2 separate regions of the Homo sapiens genome follow, and region 2 is linked to region 1. The links come from fine-mapping of genetic effects on gene expression. A gene starts in region 1. The other region holds a variant in brackets. All regions are shown on one strand. Distances are between the middles of the regions.

Evidence for each region. PIP is the estimated chance that this variant, and not a neighbour inherited with it, causes the effect.
Region 2: its variant is fine-mapped to the expression of USP40 in fibroblasts (GTEx, PIP above 0.99).

The regions. Positions count from the first base shown.
Region 1 is chr2:233,559,373-233,571,398 of GRCh38, forward strand. It overlaps USP40 (ubiquitin specific peptidase 40), which reads right to left and starts at 7,410. Exons shown (of 32, transcript NM_001365479.2): 1 at 7,312-7,410; 2 at 5,984-6,201; 3 at 3,364-3,431; 4 at 439-552. The coding sequence starts at 6,182.
Region 2 is chr2:233,460,590-233,472,615 of GRCh38, forward strand. It overlaps DGKD (diacylglycerol kinase delta), which reads left to right. Exons shown (of 30, transcript NM_152879.3): 25 at 1,759-1,870; 26 at 2,054-2,146; 27 at 3,575-3,694; 28 at 6,497-6,614; 29 at 7,834-7,964; 30 at 8,782-11,509. The coding sequence ends at 8,871. Among named protein-coding and RNA genes, the nearest start is that of USP40, 100 kb to the right of the region's middle. RefSeq lists a silencer at 7,330-7,545. The variant T/C (reference allele first, on the strand shown) is at 6,942.

The DNA of each region.
Region 1 (12,026 bases):
ACAAAGCACATAACAAACAAAGAATTTTTAAAAATTTACTTACAATGTAATTGATCCATTATTGTTGGTCAAAGACTAAAAAACTGATCAACAGTTTCCTATATAAATGGTAGGTAATCTCCATGTAATCGGTGTTGTATCTCAACTAGACTACATAAAGACTCTTAGGGTAGAAATTGTAAAAATCAGCTCTTGTACTTCTCCCCGTTTTTCCAATCTTCTCCCCAGCCCCAAATCACAGCCATTCATAAAATCCTGTATACAGCAAGTGTCTAAAAATATATATTTCTGGCTTGTAATTTTTTAATGTGAGAAGGAAACATTCAAACAATATGTTGAGACCCTAAGACAAAATTAAAGGAAGTTAGATAACATTAAACCAGCCTTATTCTTTCCTCTATTGCTGGTAACTCTTCCTTAAAGAGCTGATCCTCGTACCTCATTACTGGTCCACCCAAAGCTGTCAGTGAGGTCTGCTGTGGATGCAGCTTCCTGGTCTAAGAGCAGAAGCTGAGCAAACAAGCGCTGTAACTGTAAAGGGATGATTCGAACCTGAATGAGAAACAAACACATTTCTAAATGAATTCTTTAAGTGTTGACTAAGGCTTTTGAAAACAACTGCATACTAGCTTTTTTATATCTCCCAGTTCATTCAGGAGAAAGTTTATAAATATCCTATTATAAGGGAAAAACTAATTATGATTCAGTTCTTCTGTGAAAATTATAATGCAATCTAAAAAATAATAGTTATTTGGAGTTTTCTACCTTGATATGGTTCAGACAAACATTAAAACTCAAATAGGCCTTAATAAACCACTCAACTGATTACAGATTGACAGTAGTTTGAATCTCTTCTAATAGTCCATTATTTCTCTAAAATACCTCTGATACACACAATTTCCCCTCTGTAGAAATTTTCCAGGCACAATACTGTATCTCGCTCTGGAGTTCTCAGCACACCCTGCCTCACTTTCTCCTGGCTCCAAGTGAGTTCCTGCCTTACTTGATGTGGTGAGGGCTGGGGCAGACTGAGCAATGTTGCTCAGAGTCTGGTCTGTAGGCTAGACTTTAAGTATTTAAAGGAGAATAAGCATTTAGAAATTGTAATGGCAATTTGACATTCCCATGGCATTTTTATTATATACTAGAAAAGTGCTAATCTGCAACAGATTGGGAATAAAAAGAAATACACAAAAACAGGTCCTTTGCCACACAGGTAGCCTGAGAAGTACTGGGCTAGATCATGAAAGACTCCTAAGAAGTACAAATTTGAGCCTGAACATGGTAAGAAACTTTTGAGTTATGTTTAAGCAGGGAGGAACATGATTAGATATGCACTTTAAATATCACCACAATAACAAACAAAATAATTAACTCATTACTCAATTTATTTCCAGAGTACCAAATTGAAAGAATACTAGCCTCTATTTTTTTTTGTGTGGGGTGGAGAGGTCGGTATTGTTGCAAAAAAAGTGCTTTAAATAGACTTCTGGGGGAAGCTAATGTGGATGTTCTGCAAATATTTCCTTCACCAGAAGAAAGAATAAGCATAGTAAAGAGTGTTACATGTTTATAAAGCAGTAGCAGTATTGTACTTGGAAAACTGATTCTTTCTCGGAAGGCAAATTCCATTACCCATAGGGTATAGGCCAAGTCACTTTCTGGAAATAAAGAGCATATTTGATAATTAATAAAATTATTGCTTTGTGAACAAGCCACTTAATTCCTTCTTTAAAAAAAATTTTCTGAATACGCTAAAACACCCCAGTAAATCATAGATGTAATACCTTTGCATCGGGTTTATCCTTATCTTCAAACAAACCAAGCTCTTCTGGGCCAAGAGAAAATAAAGTTCATATGGAACCAAAAAAGAGCCCGCATCGCCAAGTCAATCCTAAGCCAAAAGAACAAAGCTGGAGGCATCACACTACCTGACTTCAAACTATACTACAAGGGTACAGTAACCAAAACAGCATGGTACTGGTACCAAAACAGAGATATAGATCAATGCAACAGAACAGAGCCCTCACAAATAATGCCACATATCTACAACTATCTGATCTTTGACAAACCTGAGAAAAACAAGCAATGGGGAAAGGATTCCCTATTTAATAAATGGTGCTGGGAAAACTGGCTAGCCATATGTAGAAAGCTGAAACTGGATCCCTTCCTTACACCTTATACAAAAATCAATTCAAGATGGATTAAAGACTTAAACGTTAGACCTAAAACCATAAAAACCCTAGAAGAAAACCTAGGCATTACCATTCAGGACATACGCATGGGTAAGGACTTCATGTCTAAAACACCAAAAGCAATGGCAACCAAAGACAAAATTGACAAATGGGATCTAATTAAACTAAAGAGCTTCTGCACAGCAAAAGAAACTACCATCAGAGTGAACAGGCAACCTACAAAATGGGAGAAAATTTTCGCAACCTACTCATCTGACAAAAGGGCTAATATCCAGAATCTACAATGAACTCAAACAAATTTACAAGAAAAAAACAAACAACCCCATCAAAAAGTGGGCGAAGGACATGAACAGACACTTCTCAAAAGAAGACATTTATGCAGCCAAAAAACACATGAAAAAATGCTCATCATCACTGGCCATCAGAGAAATGCAAATCAAAACCACAATGAGATACCACCTCACACCAGTTAGAATGGCAATCATTAAAAAGTCAGGAAACAACAGGTGCTGGAGAGGATGTGGAGAAATAGGAACACTTTTACACTGTTGGTGGGACTGTAGTTCAACCATTGTGGAAGTCAGTGTGGCGATTCCTCAGGGATCTAGAACTAGAAATACCATTTGACCCAGCCATCCCATTACTGGGTATATACCCAAAGGACTATAAATCATGCTGCTATAAAGACACATGCACACGTATGTTTATTGTGGCATTATTCACAATAGCAAAGACTTGGAACCAACCCAAATGTCCAACAATGATAGACTGGATTAAGAAACTGTGGCACATATACACCATGGAATACTATGCAGCCATAAAAAATGATGAGTTCATGTCCTTTGTAGGGACATGGATGAAATTGGAAATCATCATTCTCAGTAAACTATCGCAAGAACAAAAAACCAAACACCACATATTCTCACTCGTAGGTGGGAATTGAACAATGAGAACACATGGACACAGGAAGGGGAACATCACACTCTGGGGACTGTTGTGGGTTGGGGGGAGGGGGGAGGGATAGCATTGGGAGGTATACCTAATGCTAGATGATGAGTTAGTGGGTGCAGCGCACCAGCATGGCACATGTATACATATGTAACTAACCTGCACATTGTGCACATGTACCCTAAAACTTAAAGTATAATAATAATAATAATAAAAATACCTTTGCATCGGGTTTATCCTTATCTTCAAACAAACCAAGCTCTTCTGGGCCAAGAGAAAATAGAGCTTCTAAAGAAAAAGGTAGAATCAGAGATGCAAATGACATCATTTCATTTTAAAAAATTGTTTTAGAAAGCCAAGACCACCTTTAAGTAAAATCAAGTAGATTCAGAAATATGATTGTGGCAATATTTATACCTTACTCTATACACTTTACTTTCTTGTAACATTTTTAACCAGTGACTCTAAGAAAATAGTGTCATGCTAAGGCTTCAGCATTTCCTAATTCTAGGAAAGGAAAATAATCTTTATGCATAAAACTAAAAACAGTAACATCAGAAATCTTTCATGGCTTCCCACTGTCTATGGCATCAGGTCCCAAAAGCCCAAGAATCTCAGGAAATACAGTAGTGTTGCAGTTTTCCTGCCACATGTAAGGCTAACAAACATCCTTTCGTGGGAAGGATCCTCTTTTACTCTGAGATGCCCTTTTTTTTGGTGTGAAAATGTCTTTTCCGTGTTGAAGGTAATAACAGATGGCAGTGGTCTTATCTGGAAAAAGAAGTTGGCAACCCCATGCGAGTCTCCAGAATTTCTTTATCACCCAACATCTAGGTGATGTGCCACCCAATGGGGCATACCTGAATCTTTTGAGAAGTCTGTATCCGAGCCTAGGTAGGAACTCTTACTGGGAAACTCTGATATACTCTAGGGATACAAGGAATGGGATAAATGTGTCTCCCTATTGAAAAACTATTGCTACCCTAGTGCTTACTGTTAATGAATGTTATATTCTTTCTAAGTGCTGGGACTCGGCAAAAATGAACTACAAATCTACAAGTTAAAGCATAAAACCATACAAAAACTTTTATAATAATCTCCCAGTACTCTCAGCTACATTGTAATGGAGTACAATGGAACCCAATGTAGCCCTATTATTTAAAATACTATTCCAAAATTTCCCCCGCCAGTTCTCTGACAGTCCTTATTCTTTCCAAATTATACCTCCCTGTCAGTCACCATCAGGATTCAGGCTAAGCTATACAAGCAGTGCACATTGTGCACTAAGATGTCAAATCATATGCTTGGCCAGCAATCCCCTCTGCTGGAGAGGAAGTTGGCCTGGGACTCTCAGTACTACTCTTGCCTAATGGTACGCTCCATGACCCGCCCTACACTTCACCATCTTCCTCAGTCCCTTTGAGGCTACGTTTCTACTTCGAGTTGTCCTTTAACTTCAACTATATTAAAACCTGGAAAAGTGTTATCCCTATTAGAAATGTACTTATTAGTGCTGGCAATTTTTACTGGTGGAATTACTGATTGCATCAGGGAGATATTTTTATGGAGGGGATCGAGTCAAGGCTAAGAGGTACCACTTAAATCCCACATGCAATCCAACCCATTAAATTGCTCCTAGGAAGGTAACAGCGGTAAATATTTACTAAATCTCTGGAGGCAGCAAGTCTTTCTAAGCTTAGAAGCAACAGAAGAACCACAAAGATTTGATAAATGTGGTGGCAGTAGGGAAGAGGAACATGGCAAACCAGATAGGATGAGTCAGGCTGTCTGTCCTCCTAATATGGAGACACTGTGGAGAGCTGAGCTACAAAGCCATGTAGTGCTGGGGACCCCAGTCAGGGCCAGGTGAAGGCAAAGTAATGTTCACACTGAGCTCACGGGAACACAGCTCCTAGGACCCTTGTGGAGGAAGCTGGTTTGCAGAGATGGGGTATGGGAGAAATATATAGAGAGAAACAGGGGCAAGAAATCAAGGGTCCAGTAAGGTCAGGCTGGCTTCCTGCAGTTGATTTCTGAGATCCCCTATATTCTTACAATAACCCCCCTTTTAAATTTAGCTAATTTGGGTGGTGGGTCTGTTTCTTGCACACAATCCCTTACCTAAAATCTCTGGGTCTTTGGAATTCAGAATTTCCAGAGTTTATAAAGATAATATGAAAAAAGTGTTTTTTATATATATATAAAATGTTACATTCCCAGCAGGGTCTGGGCCAGCTTCCATTAATCAAGCAGATTAATATTCCTGTAATGAATGTATGAACATTCACCCACATGAGATAACTAAAAACTGTAAATAGCCTCACACCAGGTCTGGTTCTGAAGCCAAACAAGCTCAGGTGAGATCAGATGAGGGTGTGAGCTTTCCAGATTTCAGAAATGCGTATGAACAACTGTGCACCCATATAAATAATATGACACCCTTCCCCACTCCAAAAGGTAGATATAATTGGTTGGATAACTCTGGCTTAAGTGTTTGTTATTCTAGAGAAATCTTAAAACTCAAACAGTGTAACAATAATGAAGACTGATACTTATGACAATTGTCTTTACGTTGTACTTTAAATTACAGGAATTAAAAAAGAAATATATTGCTTTATTTTTTTACTAAACATTATTGTCATCACCCAGGATATATTTAAGATTAAGCTTCACATTTCTCTGCAGAGGGAATTACCAATTTATATCTTATATGTGCAACAATAAACACATACTGTAGAATATATCTTTAAGATAATTGGTCTATTTGTGATTTTGCATAATTAATTACATGTAAAGAAGATGGTACATATTGCTAGTTAAATGTACGTAACATAGCATACCTCTGAATTCAGGTGTGAAATGAAGAGTCTGAAGAAGGGAATTGAGGTAACAGGTTCCACCCTGATTTCTGATTCCGCTTAAATTGGTGAATTCTCTAGGAGCAGGTGGCTCCAAAGCTTTAGTCTTTAATTTCTTCCCTTTTCCATACTGATTATTAGACACAGTGGAATACTCCTCTTCAAACAGGTCCCCAAACATTGTGAAACTAAATACTACCCTTAAAAAAAGTGACATATAAATGCTTTTATTTTTAAAATAAATTTTCCCCAAATCCCCCTACCTTACACTTGGGAGTCGATTCTGTTGTTTCTTAGAACACAGGACTACTGTTTCTATGTACAGTAGTTGGGTTTTGGAGGCAGCAAGATCTAGATTTTTTTCATCCCTATCAGGACCCTAACTACCTGTGTGACCCTGGATATGTTAATCTGTTTTCTTATGTGTAAAATAGGATACCATCTGTCTCTTCGGGTCATTTAAACTATCCAATGACATAACGAAAGAAGGGCAGTTAGTGTACAGGGTTTGGCCCACAATAAGTAACAGCTGTTTTTAAAAAGGCACGTTCACATCACTAATTTTTTTAAAAAAGAAAACCTGTTGCCACAACTAATCCACTGCTGGGACGGCAAAGCCAACCCTAAATTCTGAGAATCAACTCTCTAAAATCTCTGCTTGTCACACCCTTCAGTACTATATACCAGATTATGACATTTAAATTAAACAGATCAAGTTAACTTTTTTTAGAGCACTTTAGTACAGTCCCGAAGCTGTTGGGCCGGAAGTCAGTTCACTGGGGAGGGAGGGGGGAAGGGGAGCGGAGGGCGGGGAAGACTGCCACTAAAATTATCAAGCCTAAAGGCCTTCCAGTATGTATCCACTAATCCCATCGTTAGCCCTGGGGGCCTAGGTGACTTCCCCAAGGTTTCACATCGAGTGTGGCGGAGGGTCACTTGGAGATGAGAAACGTAAAGCGCCTAGCATAGGTACCAAATGACAGGAAGCGCTGAAATGCAATTATTTTTCTTTTCCTCAGAAGAAAACTAAAAAAACACAACTCGAGAGTCTAGCCTCGAGCTCGTTGTCTGCATTCCTGAATTCCCAACTCCTACGGCCGGCCGAGGCCCTCCAAGCCACCACAGGCCCAGGGGCGCAAAAAGGCAGAGGTCCCCGTGGCCCGAAACCACTGCCCCGACTCCAGGAGAGCGCCGCGTCCTCAGGCAGGCCTGGGCAGCCTCTCGCCTCGCCCTCCTCAGACTGGGCCACCAACACTGTCCCTACGCTTCCCACGTCCCTCCCAGGATCCCCGGGCGCCAGCCGCACTTACTGCCTAAAGCCCAGACCCCCGCCCTGGCCAAAACGCGAAGCGAACGAACCCGCCCCAACTGGGCGCCGCCATGTTGGCGAGGGCGGGTCTCCAGAAAGTGATTTATGGATCGTGGACTATGCTTCCCAGGATGCCCCGCTGGAGCGCCGGCCCCTCGCACGGGGCCTTATGGGAAATGTAACTCTTCTGCTCCAAGAGTTTGGGAACTGGAGCGGGAGCGGGAGCGGGCAAGGTGAGCTCGCTTACAAGTCCGCTGGTGAGTTCGCGGGTCCACTCGGCCAGCGGACCACTCATTCGTTCACATTTATAAGATTATAGCTATATGATCTTATATAAGATTATAGCTATATGATCTTATATAAGATTATAGCTATATGATCTTATATAAGATTATAGCTATATGATCCTTATATAAGATTATAGCTATATGATCTTATATAAGATTATAGCTATATGATCTTATATAAGATTATAGCTATATGATCTTATATAAGATTATAGCTATATGATCTTATATAAGATTATAGCTATATGATCTTATATAAGATTATAGCTATATGATCTTATATAAGAGTATAGCTATATGATCTTATATAAGAGTATAGCTATATGATCTTATATAAGAGTATAGCTATATTATAGCTATATAACCTTATATAAGATTATAGCTATATAACCTTATATAAGATTATAGCTATATAACCTTATATAAGATTATAGCTATATAACCTTATATAAGATTATAGCTATATAACCTTATATAAGATTATAGCTATATAACCTTATATAAGATTATAGCTATATAACCTTATATAAGATTATAGCTATATAACCTTATATAAGATTATAGCTATATAACCTTATATAAGATTATAGCTATATAACCTTATATAAGATTATAGCTATATAACCTTATATAAGATTATAGCTATATAACCTTATATAAGATTATAGCTATATAACCTTATATAAGATTATAGCTATATAACCTTATATAAGATTATAGCTATATAACCTTATATAAGATTATAGTTATATAACCTTATATAAGATTATAGTTATATAACCTTATATAAGATTATAGTTATATAACCTTATATAAGATTAGTTATATAACCTTATATAAGATTATAGTTATATAACCTTATATAAGATTATAGTTATATAACCTTATATAAGATTATAGTTATATAACCTTATATAAGATTATAGTTATATAACCTTATATAAGATTATAGTTATATAACCTTATATAAGATTATAGTTATATAACCTTATATAAGATTATAGTTATATAACCTTATATAAGATTATAGTTATATAACCTTATATAAGATTATAGTTATATAACCTTATATAAGATTATAGTTATATAACCTTATATAAGATTATAGTTATATAACCTTATATAAGATTATAGTTATATAACCTTATATAAGATTATAGTTATATAACCTTATATAAGATTATAGTTATATAACCTTATATAAGATTATAGTTATATAACCTTATATAAGATTATAGTTATATAACCTTATATAAGATTATAGTTATATAACCTTATATAAGATTATAGTTATATAACCTTATATAAGATTATAGTTATATAACCTTATATAAGATTATAGTTATATAACCTTATATAAGATTATAGTTATATAACCTTATATAAGATTATAGTTATATAACCTTATATAAGATTATAGTTATATAACCTTATATAAGATTATAGTTATATAACCTTATATAAGATTATAGTTATATAACCTTATATAAGATTATAGTTATATAACCTTATATAAGATTATAGTTATATAATCTTATAAATATGAATGAATGAGTGGTCACATTTATAAAGATATAAGATTATATTTATATAATCTTATATCTTTGTCTTTCGTCTGTGAATCAAACTAATGGCATGTCAAAGTATTGTCTGGACAATCCTTTCATTCCATAGCTTCCTCTCCTCCTATCAGATCCCCATGAAATCTCACCTGCATTAGGATGATAGCCTTTTCAGTGGACTCCCGTTTTACACACCCCTTCCTGCACGTCACTATAAGATGCACTATCCATCTAAGGTGCACTTTGAGCTCAAACCTCTCTGCTAAAGAAGCTTCCACGATTTCTCAACATCCACTGTGGAAATTCTTTATTTTGATTCTTAGTTCGCTGATGGTCCCAACATTCTTTTCATACTGTATTTCTCACTACACACCTATTTACCAAAGTGCTTTCAAATGTGCCATCTATAAAGCTGCTAATCCCTGAGCCTTTAAGGGAAAAGATAAACACCAGCTGCAAGTCTTTTTGTTTTATGATAAAAAGCCCTGTACAACGAAAACACTTTTTCTGGTTTGGTTCCATGAAAACCAATGCTCTGTCCCTGAAGTCAGGAAGTACCTTGCCAGTAAGGGACTTCCTTTTAAATTGCTTTTGATATTGGACAATGTCCCTGGCCACCCAGAACCCCATAGATTCTGCAATGAGAGCACCAAAGTGGCCTCCTTGCCCCTAAACACAACATGTCTAATTCAGCCCTTAGATCAAGGGGTCATAAGGAACTTTAAGGCTCATTACGTACGGTTTTCTATGGAAAGGGGTGTCAACACTATGGAAGAGAATCTCAACAGGGAGAATATCGTGAAAGTCCAGAAGGATTACACCATTGAAGAAGCCCATGTTGTTACAGAAAAAGCTGTGAAAGCCATCAAGCCCCAAACAATACATTAGTGCTGAAGAAAACTGCGTCCAGATTCCAGATGTTGTGTGTGAGTTCACAGGATTTACAACAGCCTATCAAGGAAGTCATGGAAGAGATTGTGGATATGGCACCAAAAAAAAAAAAAAGAGGCATAAAGTGTTTGAAGATCTAGATCTTGGGGAAATTCAAGAGTTAATAGATACCACATCTGAGGAATTAACAGAAGATGACTTGATGGAGATGAGTGCTTTTGAATCAGTACCAGAGAATGAGGAAGAAGATATAGAAGAAGCACTGTCAGAAAATGAATTGACATTAGACAATCTTGCAGAAGGGTTCTGATTATTTAAGACTGCTTTTGACTTCTTTTACAACTTGGACCCTTCTATGATACGGGCATTGAAACTAAAGCAAATAGTAGAAGAAGGATTAGTACTGTATGCAAGCATTTTTATTTATTTATTTATTTTTATTTTATTTTTTTGAGACAGAGTCTTGCACTGTCACCTGGGCTGGAGTGCAGTGGTGCGATCTTGGCTTACTGCAACCTCTGCCTCCCAGGTTCAAGTGATTCTCCTGCCTCAGCCTCCTAAGTAGCTGGGATTACAGGTGCCCGCCACCACGCCCAGCTAATTTTTTGTAGTTTTAGTAGAGATGGGGTTTCACTGTGTTGACCAGGCTGGTCTCAAACACCTGACCTCATGATCCACCCACCTCAGCTTCCCAAAGTGCGGAGATTACAGGCGTGAGCCACTGCGCACAGCTCAGGCATTTTTAAAGAATTGAAAAAGCAAAACTATCAGACAGTAATTATGATGTATTTCCATAAAGTCAAACTGAGTGTGCCTGTCTCTCCTGCTTCCCCTTCCACCTCCTCCACCAATTCCCCCTCTGCCACTCCTGAAACAGCAAGACCAACTTCCCCCTACCCCCACCCCTCCTCAACAGCCCACTCAATGGGAGACAGTGAGCATGGAGACCTTTATGGTGATACACTTTCACTTAATGAATAGTAAAGATCTTTTCTTTTTCTTTTTTTCTTTCTTTTTTTTTTTTTTTGAGATGGAGTTTCACTCTTGTTGCCCAGGCTGGAGTGCAATGGCGTGATCTCGGCTCAGTGCAACCTCTGCCTCCCAGGTTCAAGCAGTTCTCCTGGCTCAGCCTCCCGAGTAGCTGGGATTACAGGCATGCAACACCACGCCCGGCTAATTTTTTGTATTTTTAGTAGAGACGGGGTTTCACCATGTTAAGGCTAGTCTCGAACTCCTGACCTCAGGTGATCTGCCCGCCTTGGCCTCCCAAAGTGCTGGGATTACAGGCCTGAGCCACCGCGCCTGGCAGTAAAGATCTTTTCTCTTCCTTATGAATTTTAACATTTTCTTTTCTCTAGCAGACTTTATTGTAAGAAAAATACAGCATATAATACATATATTACACAAAATATTTATTAATTGACTTTATGTTATTGGCAAGGCTTCCAGCAAACAGTAGGCTACTGTAGTTATGTTTTAGGGTAGTCAAAAGTTCTATGCTCATTTTTGACTGCACGAAGTTGGTGCCCCTAATCCTCGCTTTATTCAAGGGTCAGCTGTAGCAGCAATGAACAATTGAAAATTGGAATGAAAATACCACTCAAAATAGCATAAAAATATGAAATACTTAGGGCTAAATCTGACAAAAGATGTGAAAGACTGTACACTAAAAACTACAAAACTTTAATGAGTGACCTAAATACACAGTCATGTTCATGAATTGAAAAACTCAAAATTTTTAAGATGTCAGTTCTCCCAGTTCATCTATAAATTCAATACAATCCCAACCAAATCCCAGCAGGCTTTTTTTTTGTGCAAATTGGCAAACTGATTCTAAAATTCTTATGGAAATGTAACGGACCTACAATAGCAAAAACAACAATGGAAAACAAGAAAAAAAAGAGAGTGAACACTGACTCATTTCAAGACCTCCTACAAAGGATAGTAATCAAATATTTCATAAATATGTCAATGAA
Region 2 (12,026 bases), 99 kb before region 1:
TTAAAACCTGCCCGGGCTCAGCCGGGCGCGGTGGCTCACGCCTGTAATCCCAGCACTTTGGGAGGCCAAGGTGGGCAGATCACAAGGTCAAGAGATTGAGACCATTCTGGCTAACATGGTGAAACCCCGTCTCTACTAAAAATACAAAAAAATTTAGCTGGGTGTGGTGGCGGGCGCCTGTAGTCCCAGCTACTCTGGAGGCTGAAGCAGCAGAATCAGTCGAACCCCAGAGGCGGAGGTTGCAGTGAGCCGAGATAGCGCCACTGCACTCCAACCTGGGCGACAGAGCAAGACTCTGCCTCAAAAACAAACAAAACAAAACAAAAAAACCCTGCCCTGGCTCCCGAGGGCAGCCCGCTGACAGCCGCCTTCACTTTGCCCTCGTTTTACCCTGAGAACAGGCTTGCTCTTTGTTCTCAAGTTTACTTTAAAAAAAAAAAAAAAAAAGACAACTGCTGGGGCATTTCCTCTCACCTGCCTTCTAGAAACACCCCTGGAGCCACTGTGTCCCTCGTGGCTGGTGGTCAGCATTGTCTGCCATTCCTGCTCCTCGCCCGCCAGGTGCGGGTTCCGCCTGTGAGTCCCTCCCAGCCGGCAGCTGTGCTGCTCCGCCGGTGCGGGGCCTGCCTGCATTCTCCCCCCGTGGCCGCACGCTGGCTGGTGCCCTGGTGTCCCTTTCTTGTTTCCCCTGGGCTCCTTCTTCTCCTGGCTGTGGACAGGTGCACCCGTCGGTTTTGTGCCCGGCATGCCGTGTGCCCTTCCAGGCAGCCTGCCCAGCCCTGGCGTGCAGATGGATCGTCTGTGCCAGCCTTCGGCTCTTGTCGAGCAGGTGGTCGCTGTCCCAGTCATCACCGGCGTTCCTCGCTCTGCACTTCCATACCGGCTGCAGTCCTTCCTGGCGCTGCATTCTCTGCCCCAGGAGTTGGTGCCACTGCGGCCCCTGTCCTCGTCTCTCCCCCACCCCACCCAGATCAGTGATGGGGCTGGAGGACTTCAGTTCAGCTAATTCCTTGCCGTGCAGTGGGCTTCTGGTGGCCTCCCCTGGAAAGCCATTACCCTGTCCCCTCAAAGCCCATGGTGGCCCCTCTGGCCTGCCTGGAAGGTGCACTTGCACAGCACTGCAGGAAGCTGCTGGCAGCGGCCTGTTTCCACAGGGTCAGGACAGGCTGGCCCCGCTGCCTTTGCTTGCACTGCTCCTATAGTCTCTGTCCCCCGATCTCACCTGCCTGAGCCACATCTCAGCCTCCCTGGGACCTGGTGTGACTTGTGCTCTCACCGTCTTCCCTATGAGGGCTGCTATCTGGGGTCTGGCTCAGAGCCCATCACTGCACCAGGATTGTCCTGTTCAGATGAGGGTCCTTTTGTCCCCAGGGACAGACCGGCCAGTTACAGGTTCCAGCAAGGCTGTGGGGATTGTGCCTTACTGCAGCAGTCTCTGCAGTGGGCCTGTGCACACTGTCACTTGCCCACTGGCCGTTTTACAGGTTGTAAGCCTCATTTTGTACATTTCTCTCCCTGGAAAATCTTGGATTTTGACGTCAGATTTCTCGTGGAAGCCCTCCCATTTGCTGTGGGTCATCCTGTGCCCAAGCTTGTGACTGAACGGTCGCTGGGCTGAGCCACGATCCCTGTCGTCCTGCTGGGCCTGCCCTCCACATCAGCCCTCCAGGTGGTACCTGGGCCGTGTTCAGATGCGTATTGTGAAAGGCTGCCCTTCCATTTGGCCTGACATCTGCCCGTGCTTCTCTTCCTCTCTAGTATCCGAGAAATAGCTCAGTCTCACCGGGACATGGAGCAGGAACTGGCCCACGCCGTCAATGCCAGCTCCAAGTCCATGGACCGTGTGTATGGCAAGCCCAGAACCACAGAGGTAGCTATTCTGGCCTTTTCAGTCCTGGCTTCTTCTCAGTGTCTGCCGCCCTCGGCCCTCCCCGTGCGTGTTCATTCCCCCGCCTCCCCGGTGCATGTTCGGCCCTCCCAGTGCTTGTTCCCTGCCCCTAACCGTGCATGTTCGGCCCCCCGCCCCCATGCATATTTGCCTGGTTTCTTCTAGGGGCTCAACTGCAGCTTCGTCCTGGAAATGGTGAATAACTTCAGAGCTCTGCGCAGTGAGACGGAGCTGCTGCTGTCTGGGAAGATGGCCCTGGTAAGCTGGTGCCCCAGGGACAGCAGGGCTCGGGCTGTGTGTGAAACGACTGCTGTCGCCAGGTTGCTGGGCACACAGGGCAGCACACTTTAGTCCAGAGTTCCCGGTCTTAAGGAATGGGCCGCAGAGGTCATTTGGTTTGTTGTGCGGCTGGTGCCCACCCCTGCTGGCAACCCCTCAGTCAGGTTGTCTCAAGCATGCGAGAAGCGCTTGCAGCGGAAACACCCTTGTCGTCGTGGACAGAAGATGCTTTTCTGCCTTAGAAGCCTGTAGTGCAGAGTCCTGCTCCTGCCGAGAGCTGGCCACACTCTCAGGCACCTTCCATGCTCAGCCCTGCAAAACCGGCTGATATGGCAGCTGTGGGGCTGTTACTGAATCACAGGGGCTAGAACAGGGAGAGGCCTGAGAGACTGACTGGCCAGCCTTCTGGTTTTAAAGATGAGGAGGAAGGGGCTTGATAAAGATTGGGCAACTGGAGAACCGCCCCAGGTGTGGTTTCCCAGCCCTCCACTCCGCACGCCACTCACCTCCTCACTGCACGCGTCTCCTCACTGCACGCATCACCTCACTCCACACATCACCTCACTCCACACATCTCCTCACTGCACGCATCTCACTCCACACATCACCTCACTCCACACATCTCCTCACTCCACACATCTCCTCACTCCACGCATCTCCTCACTCCACGCATCTCCTCACTCCACGCATCTCCTCACTCCACGCATGTCCTCACTGCACGCATGTCCTCACTGCACGCATGTCCTCACTGCACGCATGTCCTCACTCCACGCATCTCCTCACTCCACGCATCTCCTCACTCCACGCATCTCCTCACTCCACGCATCTCCTCACTCCACGCATCTCCTCACTCCACGCATCTCCTCACTCCACGCATCTCCTCACTCCACGCATGTCCTCACTGCACGCATCTCCTCACTCCACGCATCACCTCACTCCACGCATCACCTCACTCCACAGAAATCCTCACTCTACGCATCTCCTTATCCCATGCCTCCCCTCGTCCCACGTCCCGTGGTCACACGCGTGTCCTCACTGCACACCTCCTGCTGCCTCCTGCAAGGTTCGACTGCTGACTTTGCTTCCCACAGCATTTCCACTGCTTGACACAGGTGAATGGCTCCGACCCCATTTCTGACAGAGGGACACAAGCAGGTCAGTTGTCAGCCTTGCTCTATGTGAATTCATCGTTGACTGATGGACAGTTTTATTCTCTCACCAGCACTACTTAGAAAGTGAGGTTCTGGGTTTGGTTCCTTTTCTGGTGCTCTGGGACTTCGTTTCTGGAAAGTGAGCTCCCTGATCAGAGCAGAGCAGAGCCCTGGAGCGGACCTCACCCCCCTGGGCCTCGCGCTGATCAGCAGTGCACACTCTCCATTTCTCTCTCCCTCCCTCCGCCTGGAGCAGCAGCTGGATCCGCCTCAGAAGGAGCAGCTGGGGAGTGCTCTTGCCGAGATGGACCGACAGCTCAGGAGGCTGGCAGACACCCCGTGGCTCTGCCAGTCCGCAGAGCCCGGCGACGAAGAGGTATGTGGCTCATAGGGCTGTGCCTGGGTCTCCCGGACATGGTGGCTCTCGCCTGAAGTGCCTGTGTTCCTTGTGACCCGTGTGGCTCTGGGATCAAGATCGTGTCGCTCCGGCAGCCCCTGAGGGGCCTTCTCCAGACTTCGCTATTAAAATGCTCTTTAAGGCAGGGAGGGACAGCAGGTAGGAAGGAGTTCTGGGCTGGGATTAAGAGTGCCCCTTGAGGACCAGGGACCTGTTGTCCTCTGAAACAGAACTGCAGGGCTTCCTGGACAGTGGGTAGAAGGAAGGCTGAGCCCAGCCCCACAGCCTCCCCCGAGGGTGGAGATGTATCATGGGATAAATGGCAGCCTTTTGGGATCCCGCTGTGGACAGGGCGCAGTTGGTGTGCGCCACTCCCCACTCACACTCTCTTCCTGTGTGAACAGAAAGACTCCAGCTCGTCGCAGGTCTGGGAGGGACCCGAGGACGCAGGGCATAGCGGACCCTGGGGTGGAGTCACATTCTTCTGCAGGGAGTGCTGGCTGAAGGAGCCCTGGAGAGGGCCGTGTCTGGACAAGGACAAACCCCAGCCTGTCTCTTGGCTTCCCTGCTTCAGAGATAGAACACAGAGGGGCCCTGAGGAAAGCTCATCTTGGGCAGTACAGTTGCAGAAGGCAAATAACTGCAAGACGCCAAACCTGGGCACCCCTGCCCAGTGGGGTTTGTGAGACCTGTGGGCAGCAGTAAGGCGAGGGGACAGAGGTGGGCAGCTGCACAACAGCACCCTCTTTCCGGGGCCCTGGGGCGTTTTTTGACGCATGCAATCCTTTCATGGGAAACTGACTCAGGCACTCCAGCCGATGGATGAAACTCAGCAGCTTCTCAGTGAGGGCACTTGGGTATAAAAGGACAGGGCAAGCTCCTCAAAATCCATTAAATAATTCATTGTAAAGGTGATTAAGAAATTTTACCCAAAATTACAAAAATAATAATATACAATGATTCAACAGATGTCACAGTGACATAGCCCTATAATACCAGATTAAATTAAGGCCAGTAAAGTGGGCAGTGAGGTGAGAGGCTGGGAAGAGGACATGGACGGGGGGAGGAAAGCATGTTAAATTCCTCCTCTTACAGTGGAAGAACGTTACAAACAACATTCTTGACTTTCATACTTGGAGAAATACAGAGTCAATAATGTTTTTAGGGTCAAGAGTGGTGGCTCGCACCTGTAATCCCAGCACTTTGGAAGGCCAAGGTGGGAGGATCACGTTAGCCGAGGAGTTCAAGACCAGGCTCGGCAACATAGTGAGACCCTGTCTCTATTAAAAAAAAATTTTTTTTTAAACTTAAAGGTAATTTCTAATAGAGCTGAAAAGATTTATATCTTCCAAATTGCCACCAAGGACAAAAATAAAATACAATTTATATTGTAAAAGAAAGTAAAGGACCAGCAAGGGTATCGCTAACAGCATGAAAATAAGATAACAGAAAAATGACATGGCTTTCTCTTAAAAGTAAATTCTTAGGTTGTGTTTTAAAAGAAACCTAACCATATATTGCTCACAAGAGCCCTGTTTTTTTTTCTCATACTCCTAATAAAAATTTATGATACAGAAAGATTAATAATAATTAAAACACCATAAAAAATCCAAAGTAACAATATAAAAATAAAATTGCATATGTAAGACAATAAATGATAAAAAGAGGATCACTTTACATTGGTAAAATACAATAATTGTTATGTATAGTCATCAACTTATGACAGTTATAATAGTCACGAAACTGTGCCAAATAATAAGCATCTAAATTAGCTGTTCAAGACTATGTTTTTTATTCCCTAACTTCATTTTACTGTGCTCCAAGCAATGGTCTGTATGTTACTAGTCCTTTGAAATGTACTGAGGTGAGACTTGCCCAATAGGTGGTTTTTGTAAATGTATCTTGTATGCAGTTGTGTTTACATCATTAAGTTCCTACTGAAATTTTTTTTGTCTTCTTGATAGATCAGTTAACTCTAATACCATAATTGTAGATGTCTCAGTTTATCTTTGTGGTTATGTGTATTTTTGCTTCATGTATTTTGAGGCTATGTTATTGGGTACCCATAGGTTTTATCATTATATAATGATCCTTTTATCTTTAGTAATTCTTTTTATCTTCAAGTCTACTTGCTTGCTATATTTTTTCATAGTTTTACTTTCAAGCTTTATTTGGAGTGTCTCTTATAAAGAGTGCATCACAGAGTGAGGCAGTGTTACCTCCGTGCATCTCAGGGAGTGCTGTGTGGAGAGGCTGCCGCCGCCGATGGCTGTCAAGAGCAGAGGCCGAGCCTCTGTGTGGCTCCGCTCTTCACCCTTCCTCTGCTCTTCTGCCTCAGGGAGTGGATCGCAAGGAAAGAATGCAAAGTGCAGGAGAGTTTTCATTAGACAGATACTCGTAATACTAAGAATCAAAGCCCAGCAATCCAACACTAGAAGATTGGCTAAAGAGGTTATTTTAATAATTTTTGTTTAGATACTGATATTTATGATATTTTCAAAAAGTTTTTAAATCTCATGAGAAACGCACATGTAAAGTGAAGGAAGTAGAATATGATAAAAATAGACACTATGATCACTTTGAAACCACTTTAACACTCACTAAAATCAACACTAAATACAAGAATCAATAAGGGAGAGAAGCCCTTTCAGGCACAAGAGGTCTTTCCCAGCTCCCGCTCATCTCAGCCCTGCCTGCCCTCCCAGCCTCTCTGGTGGAGATGGGCATGAGGCCGTGATCAGTTGCAGCCTGATTCTCAGTATTCCTCATTCTCCCCAACAGAGTGTGATGCTGGATCTTGCCAAGCGCAGTCGCAGTGGTAAATTCCGCCTCGTGACCAAGTTTAAAAAGGAGAAAAACAACAAGAACAAAGAAGCTCACAGTAGCCTGGGAGCCCCGGGTACCTGCCTCTCTCCCGCGTGTGTTTCTGGCCGTCCACGCCTGCTGGATCGGCCCCGTTCCCCTGGTCTCTGCTTTCTCCCTTGGCCTTGCAGCTCCTCCCTCTTGGTCCCTGTGCTGTAACCCCCGGTCCTGCGACCACACTTGTCTGTTGGTAGCTGCAGCCCTCCACCCTGCCTGCTTCCCCTCTGACCGTTGTCACACCCGGCCCTGACGTGCTCTCTGGCTTTCTGCCTGCCCTGAGTTGGGGGATTCGAGGTGGGGAGGAAGACAGCAGTAGAGTGGTGACAAGACAAACTTGGAGACACAAAGCTCTGGACTCAGGCCG[T/C]GCTGGGGCATGCCCTGCCTGCTCCCTCCTGGGCTGCTGGTTCCTGATAAATTGATGCATTGGTCGAGGTTCCTGTGCTGGGAAGCCCAGGCCACCAGAGATTGTGGGTGATGAAATCAATCGAATATGGTCCTGAAGGACATTGTTCCTTTGGGTCAGTAAATTGGAGCTAAACTCTCTGTCTGAAGGATCAGCCCTGAATACCCAGGCCATATCCAGTGCTGTCAGGGGCTGGAGAGGCCTCCAAGCCTGGATATTGGGACTGGTGTTTGCCGCCAGTCAGGGCAGCTCCTGTGGGTTTTTCTTCTTTGCATGTTTGTCCAGAAATGGGGTTTCTGTTAATAATGGTGGCTCTGACTATGTGAATTGAAATCTCTGCTCGTTTCCTTTCCTGCTATGGTCCAGAAGTGAAATTTAACCCTTCTAGAAGCTGGAGGAAAAGCTGGCTTTGGCCACAATCATGAGGACATTTCCCTCATATTTGGTGGTGGTAAATCCCTCCTGGGACACGGGGAAATGACCAGAGGCTGGCGGCCCACCTGGCAGGAACAGATGCCAGCTCTGCTGCAGCCATCGCCCCTTGAGCGGGTGGCTCTGTGCCTCTTTCTGCACTGCTGGTGGGTGGTGCTGTTGGCTGGGTGATGGATACCGGCTGCCAGAGATGGCTCAGGTGCCAGCTGCTGGGCTATCTCAGGCACTGGCTGCTGGGCTATCTCGGGTGCCGGCTGCTGGGCTATCTCAGGCGCTGGCTGCTGCTGGGCTGTCTCGGGTGCTGGCTGTTGGGACGTCTCCTGTCCTGGCACTGGGCTCTCGGGTGCTGGGTGCCAGCTGCTGCCTACCTTGCACTGGGCTCTGGGCACTCACTGCACTCGTGCTTTTCCATCTCCGACAGTTCACCTCTGGGGGACAGAGGAGGTTGCTGCCTGGCTGGAGCACCTCAGTCTCTGTGAGTATAAGGACATCTTCACACGGCACGACATCCGGGGCTCTGAGCTCCTGCACCTGGAGCGGAGGGACCTCAAGGTACTTCCATAGGCGTCTCCCTGGAACCTGCACTTGGGCTTGCACGCAGCTCCCTTCTCTTCCATCCTCTCCCCCGACCTGGCCATGTCCCAGCATCACGATTCTTCTCAGGCTTTCGTGTATACCTCAGGTGGGGGCGGCTGTGGCCCTCATCTAGGCAGTGATGGCTCCACCCACCACAACCAGAGGAAGCCAGGAGCAGACATAATGGGGGGCAGAGCCTTGGTTATCTTAGGCTACTCAGACAAGGACTGTCTTCGTGTTAAAAACACTATGAGGGGACACAGACCCTGAAGCACAGTCACACACGACTGTCCCCATGCTGCTCCTGGGCGGGTGCTGCCACTCGTCTGCAGGGAGCATTGGGAGGGGTGGTTGGGTGCCAGGCCTCGGTCTATGCCAGGCCTCACGCCACATCTTGCAGGCCCATGCCCCTGCCCAGGTTGGCCTCAACGGGCCAACCCCTGGGTGTTGAATCACTGGCTGAGTCCCGAGAGGGCAAAAGGCCACTGTGGGTGTCCTGGACAGTGGCTCTCATGAGGTCACTTGTCATCCACTTGCTTTTAGGCCTGTGTTTTGTCTTTGTCTTGGATTTGTCCTTGCTGATGGTAGTGACTAGAATGCAGGAACAATGGGCCAGGCATCTGTATGGTTGTTACTTTTAAGCTGTTTCCATCTTGTTTTACCGTTTTTGTCATTTTGGCTCTCATTTGTGTTCACAAGCCGAATGGGAAGGGCCGTTGTGGCAGGCCTGCTGTGGAGCCCTCTGGCCCTGGCTGTCTTCTCGGCATCCATGGCGGTGTCTTCTCTGTTGCAGGACCTGGGCGTGACCAAGGTGGGCCACATGAAGAGGATCCTGTGTGGCATCAAGGAGCTGAGCCGCAGCGCCCCCGCCGTCGAGGCCTAGCCTCTGTCCTCTCAGCCTGTGGCCTCCACATCCCCGCCGCCGAGGCCTAGCCTCCGCCCTCTCAGCCTGTGGCCTCTGCGCCTCCTGCCACTGAGGCCCTGGGCAGATGCTGCAGCCCGCCCCCTTCTCATGGTGCTACTTCCTCTGTCAGCTACAGAAAGCCTCCGTGACACCGTCCACCAGAGCTCTGGGGTCTCGAACATAACAACACAGCTACCTTTGAAACAACACTTTCTCCAGCTCAGAGTCACCTGGGGCACATGTGTCACGGCCACTCAGCTCTCGCCCGCCTGTGCTGTGGGCCAGGGAATCCAGCGGCGTCTGGCCTCCTGGGCACTGCTTGCCTGGCCTCGTGCTTGGATTGTCCCGGGGGCTCCTCTCCGTGTGTCCTTCTGTGGCCGCACCGTGTGGCTCCGCCTCCTGGCCCCCAGCCAGTTCTCAGAAACGTGGCTGGGGCCCAGCACAGCAGCCTGCAAGGGCCCCTGTTTGTTGATGCAGCTTTTGTTGAACAAAAATCGTGCTCTTTCCTGGTTTGAAAGTAGCATGGATGTTTCCAGTCTTGTTGATTGTAATTTGACGTGAAGAGAAAAAAAAATTCCTCCTGCGTGAGCCAAGGCAGCGGGTGCTGTTTCCCAGGCGGGGAGCCCCTCCCTGGGTGTCACAGGGCCTGTGCTCCTCCCTCCTCCATCCTCTCTCCTCCCGCTCCTCCCTCCCCCCACTGTGGGCTGGGGACGCCTGCCCTTCTGTCTCCGGACGCTCTAGGCGAGTTCAGCTTGGGGTGTGAGTGAGACAGCTTGCCAGCTGCATCCCTGCAGACAGAGGATGTGTGTCCACATGAGTGTTTCTGTGTGGGAAATGCTTCCTGGCTCTGGGAAACTTTTTCTGCCCATTCTGTGGTTCCCAGGGAGCGTGGCCCTGGTGGGCCAGGGGTGGTTTGACCTCTTCAGCCCGTCCGGTGGCCTGGAGGCCGGAGGCTCTCCTGAGTGTCTGCCCCTGCAGTGGCTTCTTGTCGCCTGCTGCTGGGCGTGATGTCGCTGGAGGTGCTGGCAGGGACTCTGATTTGGTGGTCCGCGCTGCCCCTGCCCTGCCTCTGTCCTGGCTCTGAACTAGTAGATGATGGTGCCAGAGGGCAGGGAGCTCGCCTGGGGAGAGGGCTGTGCCCCGTAGGGACAGTGCCCAGGTGAAGGATGCCCCTGGTCCTCCAGGGCACTGACTTTGCCCTTTTTTCCCGTTGATAGTCATGGCTCAGAGGTGCTTGTAAATGTCTTGGGAAGAGGTTTCTGTAACCCCTGCCCTGGTGTGAGGAGGAAATGGCTCTGGCCTGGCTGCCTGGCCGTGGCTTCTCTTTGGCTCCCAAAGAGAAGGACAGTGTTGGGAGTATCTGCCGTGGCTTCTCTTTGGCTCCCAAAGAGAAGGACAGTGTTGGGAGTATCTGCCGGCGCTGTCCAGGTCCTTTAGTCAGCGTCACTCCATCTGATGTGCAGAAGCTGGGCTGCACCTGCGGGGGTGGGCATAGACCGGGCTGGGTCTGCAGCAGCCCCTGGTCCTGAGCAGGCGGCAGTGAACAGCACTGGCCCACCTCCCACTCACAGCCCCTCTGTCCCCTCTGCAGTGCACCCAGGTGGGCCCCTCTGCGTGCCTTTGGGTGCTCCCCTCTCGTGGTCGTTCTGGCCCGAGGCCCTTAGAGTATGGAGGCTGAGCCAGGCCTTGGGTTTCCCCAGCACAGCCTCCTGTCGCTGCATGCGACGTGTTGGGATTTTTGGATGAAAGACTCTCCCACGCTCTGTTGGTGGACTTAGCTGCCTCACTGGAAGTGATGTGGGTGGAAGGTGGTTGTATGTTACCTTTTCCACCTCTCATTGTTTTCCCCAGAACATTGTAGATGGGGGTTGGCAGAGGGAGAAATAAGCCAGCCACGGCAGTCGCTTGGTTTCCCAGGTGGAATGGGCTAACACAGGAGATGATGGGAACCTGTCCCGCAGTCCCTGCATGACCATTGGCCCTGCTGGCCTGGCGATGTGGGCATCCTGGGGTTCTTAGGGTCCCAGAACAAGCCCCAGGCAAGCTGGAACTTGGGTGGGGAGGGGACATGAGGAGGATAAACAGCTGACTGTGGCTTCAAGGACATCAGGGCCACCCCAAGTCCTCAGTGTCCTACTCCTGGCAAGGAGTTGGGTTTGGATCAAAAGTGTTTAAAATTAATATGTTGTCAGTGATTAGAACAACACTGTTTACATAAAAACCATTTTTCTAATTCTAACAAGTTAGAATGTGAGGAAGGAATGAACATGAGTGTTTAGGAACCTGCCCTTTGGTGCTGGGCTGGCGTCCCGCACTGGGGTGTCCTCGCTGTCTGGGGGCTGCTCTGCTGCCCCGGCCCAGGTCCCCTTGTGGTGTTGCCAGACGGGCCTCATGGTCTGCTGTGCAGAGAGAGGCAGGAAGGATCCCTGAAGAGTCTTGGAGAAAAGGTTCTGTGCCCTCAGGTGGGGCTTACCCCCTCGTATTTATAATCTTAATTTATATAGTGACCACCGTGGAAACAAACGCCTCTTGTATTGTCATGTACATAGTCCATACCTGAGTGCTGTACATAAGTTGTTCTGTGTATAAATAAAACAAGCCTGTTTTTGATCTTCCATCGCCAGAGTCTTTGTCATCATTCCTTGTGCTTTGACATAAAGTGTTGGTTGCCGGAATCTTTCCAAACTGGATTCAGAATTGTTTTTCACCTGCTCTGAAAATAGGTTGAGTTGTTGGTGGCTAAAAAGCAAAACAGAATGCCATTAGCATGCCATCAGAATGCCGTTAGAATGCCATTAGAATGCTGTTGTATTTTTTAGGGTGTGGGTTCTGTGATCAGTTGGACTAAAAATTCCGCAAGGAGAGAGAGGGTACTGGGCAGTGCTGAGGCTCTCAGGTGTGACCACACAGCCTTGGCCCGGGAGAATGAGGGCCATTTTAACGAATATTTTAACCCTCTTAAATCTTTTCTATAAAACTGCAAACCTGAAGCTCTCCGACTTCTCTGCTTTGTCTTGGTACTTTTATTTCCAAGGGAACTGTCTACGATCAAGGCCACTTGAATTGTCTTCCCCAGTTTCCTGGAGTGAGGGATGGGGACTGCATTCATGGAAGACACCATCAGGCTGGTCGGG